Regions from separate parts of the Homo sapiens genome. Here region 2 is linked to region 1. The links come from fine-mapping of genetic effects on gene expression. Tissue or cell type: monocytes. Region 1 holds a variant in brackets; the other region holds the start of a gene. All regions are shown on one strand. Distances are from middle to middle.

Region 1 (2,684 bases):
ATAGCTGTCTATCACACAACAACATAAAAACATATTTGAAAATATTTATAACACAGAGAGACTTTTAGCTACTGACTTCAAAACATTAGAAAATAAAGATCTTGTAAGAGAATTCAAGTAAAGTCAAATGTCCTAAAACTTACCTGAGTTAAATGATTCACTTGTAAAGGGAGGTGTTGACCAGATTTTAGGTAAGTGTACTAGATTTTAGATAACTCTTAACAGATGTTAATTTATATACTAAAACTAAATATCCAAAATAATCCAGATGTCAGAACCGTGGACATAGGAAAATACTGGGTCTAGGAGGAGCAATATTTTGATCATCTACAGTCCCACTGTACAATATGGTAGCTACTCACGTCTGTGGTTAACTTTGAATTAATTACAATTTAAAAATTAAAAATTCAGGCCAGGCACAGCGACTCACAGCTGTAATCCCAGCACTTTAGGAGGCCAAGGCGGGAGGGTCACTTGAGGTCAGGAATTCGAGACCAGCCTGGACAACATGGTGAAACCCCATCTCTACTAAAAATAAAAATAAAATTAGCCGGGCGTGGTGGCGCGTGCCTGTCATCCCAGCTACTCAGGAGGCTGAAACAGAAGAATCACCTGAATCCTAGAGGCAGAGGTTGCAGTGAGCTGAGATCACACCACTGCACTCCAGCCTGAGCGACAGAGCGAAACACCGTCTCAAAAAAAAAAAAAAAAAAAAAAATCAGCTCCTCAGTCACGCTAGCCACATTTCAAGCGCACAATTGCCACATAAGGCCGGTGACTACCATGCTGGACAGTGCAGCTACGGTACATTTCCAATACCGAAGGAAAGTCCCATGGCCCGCGCTGCTGTGGGGAATCGGAAGAGGCACGCCATTCCCGGGAAGAACAAAAACCTCCTAGAGAGGCTTAAAAAATTTGCCATTAACACGGGGAAAAAAATCTTCTATTTCCATTCCTCCATCTTATTTTCTCACCTCCTAGACAATGTTTCTTTTTTTTATTCTTTCTCTCCCTATTTTCTCACATTTTTCCTGCCCTTTTTTCTTATTTTTCTCTCACTGCTTTTTCTAACAACAAACATGCAGTCCATCTTTAATGATTTGATGCATTTCTTTAGGGTTTTCAAAATTTCTCAATGTTAAAATGTAAGGAGCTGAATGAACATTATTTCTAATGTGTTTTTTTTTTTTT[T/A]AAAAAAGCCATATTTAGAGGAGACTGTTTTTTAAGGTATGTGACCTTAGGTGTGTTTCCCCCACCTGAGAACATTATTCTTCCATAGAAAGGGTTTCTCACCGTTGGAATCCGGGGTGAAAAAAAATTTGCAATTCTAGTTCCGGCCTCTGGGGTTTCCTTGCACCGGAGGCCGGGCTCAGTCCTCTGGGCCGCGAAGTGGGCGCGGAACCTCTCGGTCCGCCGAACTCCTACCGCCACCTAGCGGAAGGAAGGCGCAAGGGCTTCTTCGTCACTGACGGTTGCCAGGCAACGGAGGCACGGCCCGGCCCGCGTTAAGGAGGAGGGCGCAGACCGAAGGACACTGAAAGAGCTGTAACAACCCCACTTTCGATTGGTTGAAGAGCTCTCAGCCTTCTCATGAGCCAATGAGAAGAGGCACGCGGATGGCGTCAGACGCTATGCGACTCCTCCCACCCACGCTCTGGCAATGCGATTGGAGACCGCGGAGGCCTACGTCGGACCCGGAGGCCCTGAATGCCCCATGCGCACCCCACAGCTCGCGCTCCTGCAAGTGTTCTTTCTGGTGTTCCCCGATGGCGTCCGGCCTCAGCCCTCTTCCTCCCCATCAGGGGCAGTGCCCACGTCTTTGGAGCTGCAGCGAGGGACGGATGGCGGAACCCTCCAGTCCCCTTCAGAGGCGACTGCAACTCGCCCGGCCGTGCCTGGACTCCCTACAGTGGTCCCTACTCTCGTGACTCCCTCGGCCCCTGGGAATAGGACTGTGGACCTCTTCCCAGGTGAGGGAAAACGTTGTGGGGGTGGAAACTTACTTCTGAGATCTAAAATTCTGTGAGCAAAGTTGAGCTGCCACAAAGCAGGAGTGGGGCTGTCGGAAGAAGGAGGGTGAGCACCTGGGAGAGTTTGGGGATCTTCATCCCACTCACTCTGTGTCGTACTTTCATAGTCTTACCGATCTGTGTCTGTGACTTGACTCCTGGAGCCTGCGATATAAATTGCTGCTGCGACAGGGACTGCTATCTTCTCCATCCGAGGACAGTTTTCTCCTTCTGCCTTCCAGGCAGCGTAAGGTGAGCTTCGTTGCTCAGACTGAATCCTAAAGGGGTTTGGGGCCTACAACGGGTAACATTTGGATGTAAGAAGAGTTAGTCTTTGTGCCTCCCACCCGTACTTCCACTCCTAGGACATTCCCTTGGTTTTTCCTAGGAATTGCCTTTTCTGATTCTCTAGAGCAGGGCTGGCCAGTAGAATAAGACCTTCGTGTCGTCCTATAGGTGCCCAAGGAGTCCTCTTTGGCATCATCTGGCCGATATTGCTGGGACACTCTTTTTTGGACCTGCCCCGCCCCTTCTAAATATATCTTCTCCCTCCTCTTTCCTCACAGGTCTTCAAGCTGGGTTTGTGTAGACAACTCTGTTATCTTCAGGAGTAATTCCCCGTTTCCTTCAAGAGTTTTCATGGATTCTAATGGAATCAGGCAGTTTTGTGTCCAT
Region 2 (2,684 bases), 62 kb before region 1:
CAAACTAACCCCTTCTGACCTCAGTTTCTCCTTTTTGCAAAAGACCATAATAACAATACCTGCTTCTCATAGAGAATGGCCATGAGCACCAAATGAGGAAAATGTATGTGAACTTGAGTGCAAAGTACAAATTCCTTCACAGACTTAAGATTTTACCAGTATCACTTCCCCAGTAGCTTCAAGGATTTGCAAACCTGAAATCCACAATGTCAGGGCACCAGAAAAAGCAGAGAAACAGTATTGGGGAGTGGAAAAGCCCACCAGCCCTGCCTCAGACCACCTCCATCCACACTCAGCCCTTACTAACTATGAGATCTCAAGGCAAGTTATCCTCTCAGTACCTCAATTATGCCATCTGGAAAATGGGAATGTCAATGATAGCACTTGTAAGGTTCATGTGACAAGTAAGTAGCACATGTAATATGCTAGGTATAGCTCCCAACACAGAATAAAGACTTAGTCAACATTAACAGCTATCATTATTGTAAGTATTAAGAAATATGTTGGCTACTCATGCTATTCTTCCATGTTCTATACGGTATAAGCATGTGGGAATGTTAGAAGTTAGAGATGATAAAGAAGGAGGAGAAGGAGGTTTACAACCCTATACTCCCTCACTGCTGCAGAGATTCTTCCTGGCTCTCACACGCTGGCAAGCAGCTGGCTCTCCGTCTTGGCAGAAAATGCCCAAAAGAGGTAAAAGATAGAGACTGCACACCATCTGTGCAAACCAGGCTGCTCTTGTAGTTTTTAGACAAAATCTAAATGTAGTCAGATGTGACCTGCCCTTTTAAGATAGAATTATTCTATTTCCTCCCTCTACCCGTCCCCGTCCCCCACTCTGTCCCCCACATAAAACTCCCCCACATATCTCAAGAAACTTTCAGCATTTTGAAAGACATACTCTGGGGTCCTGTTGTGACAGCCTTGTGCCACATTAACTTCTCTGTCTTGTTCCCAGCAAAGAAGCCTTTGCTAATTTCACAACAGGAAAGCATGCAAGAAATTCGAGAACAAAACAAATCTACACGCAGAGCCCAGCATCTTCAAGCAAACACCCTGAGGTACAGACCCGAGGCTAGATGAGTCCGGACTGCAGATGAGGCAGCTGCCTCTTAAACTGCAAGGGGACTGAAAAAGTCATTTGCCTCTAAAAAAACCAACTCTGAATACAAATTGATAATGAATATTCATGAGCCCCTCCAGCTTGCTCTAGAGCCACCCTTGACTGCAACCCTGGACTCTGCTTCCTAAAAAGTTTCCCAAAGCTCTTTCTCTGCCTCCTCTCAGAAGGAAGAGGGTGGGAAAGTTCATTCAGGGCTTTTTGCCTCCAGCTTTCAAGTACTTGCTTTTTGGTCTGGGCTTTTATTTTTCCTTCTATTTTTTTTTTCTTAAGGATTCAGATCAAATCAATTTTGGTCTTACCCTTTGTATCTTCCATAAGTAGCAGCTTTTGTTTTCCTCCTCTTTCCTCGTCTTTCCCCCCCCCAGCCTCTGCTTGCTGTGGTCCGTCTCCGTGAGAGAGGTCCTCAAGGAAACAGAGATATAACAGACCCTTGGGCTCGTGGGAGGGGCTAAATTAGCCGGCCCCGTTTCGGAAGGAACCTCAAACCCTGTCTTTTTCATTGACTAGAAAGGACAGATTGACTGAGGAGTCCAGCAGCTCATTTTCCTAAAGTTACTCGAAGCCTTTTCCAGGTTGTAATTTTTTGCATCCTTGAAGCAATGTATATTCAAATCTCTCTCTCTTTCTCCCTTCTTCCCTCTCTCCCTTACTCCCTCCCTCTTCATCTCTCTCTCCCTCTCTTCGTTATAGAAATCCCTTTTTCTCCCTTGAAAAAGTCATCTCAGCTGCAAGCAAAAAAAGCTATTCCTTACTGCAATTATGAAGCTAGATAATAAGAAAGTTGTTACCTTGAAACCCGCTCGAAAAACTGAAAGTCAAGAACAGTTCTTCCCTCCCCATAAAGCCTCTGGTCCCATGACCAGCAATCCTTTCTCAAGGCTCATTAGAGCAAAGAGCAACAGGTGACCCAAGCGATGAGTTTCCTGCAGGAGACGCTGCGTTATTGGTTGGAAGGCTGGGTGGAACCACAGAGGAGCTGCTCAATGGGAACCGCTGCCTGGCTATGAATTGATGAAAGTCATCCACCATTTCCCAACTTTGACTTCCTACCTTTGAAGTCTAATGAGCATGAATTACCACATCCAGACCGTCAAGATTACCCCAATGTAGATGAGAGCCTGACCAAATTATTTTTAAACTGTGTAACAAAATTATTTTGAAATCAAAACAAGGGCTAATCCTTTGAAAGGAAGGTAAGTCCTCAAGTCCCAAGGCGACTTGGCAGCTTCTCCCTCCACAAGGCTGTTGCAAACCTTAGCATTTCAGGTCTGAAAGATACCTCAGACATTGAGTCTAAAAGAGGTTAGAGATGTGGAGAGGTTAAGCCACCTGCTCATGCTCACATACATGGTCTCTCTTATTTGCTACCATGTTCCCCAGCACCTAATACAGTTTCTCTCACAGCATGGGCTCTCAATAAATATTTGATGAATGGTTGAAAAAAATGAATGAATTGCAGCAAAGCAGAAATGTAGATCTGTTTTCCTGTTTCCTAGTTCTTGATTTTTCTACATTGCTTGTCTGGCATGTAAATTTGTATCTAAAGCCAGTTATACCA

Direction of the effects. Alleles are on the strand shown, and positions count from the first base shown. SD is a standard deviation of normalised expression in the study named.
In carriers of allele A in region 1, the expression in monocytes of the gene that starts at base 1,518 in region 2 tends to be higher than with T alone (moderate effect, 0.45 SD a copy in Fairfax 2014).

Evidence for each region. PIP is the estimated chance that this variant, and not a neighbour inherited with it, causes the effect.
Region 2: ENTPD1 starts here. The variant in region 1 is fine-mapped to the expression of ENTPD1 in monocytes (Fairfax 2014, PIP 0.95).

What each region holds. Positions count from the first base shown.
Region 1 is chr10:95,692,930-95,695,613 of GRCh38, reverse strand. TCTN3 (tectonic family member 3) reads left to right here and starts at 1,687. Exons shown (of 14, transcript NM_015631.6): 1 at 1,687-1,970; 2 at 2,138-2,261; 3 at 2,576-2,684. The coding sequence starts at 1,715. It also overlaps a transcript of ENTPD1 not described here. RefSeq lists enhancers at 727-1,228, 1,703-1,982. The variant T/A (reference allele first, on the strand shown) is at 1,192.
Region 2 is chr10:95,754,997-95,757,680 of GRCh38, reverse strand. It overlaps ENTPD1 (ectonucleoside triphosphate diphosphohydrolase 1), which reads right to left and starts at 1,518. Exons shown (of 10, transcript NM_001776.6): 1 at 1,426-1,518. The coding sequence starts at 1,441. It overlaps ENTPD1-AS1 (ENTPD1 antisense RNA 1), which reads left to right. Exons shown (of 6, transcript NR_038444.1): 6 at 967-2,684. RefSeq lists a silencer at 268-327 and an enhancer at 1,658-1,957.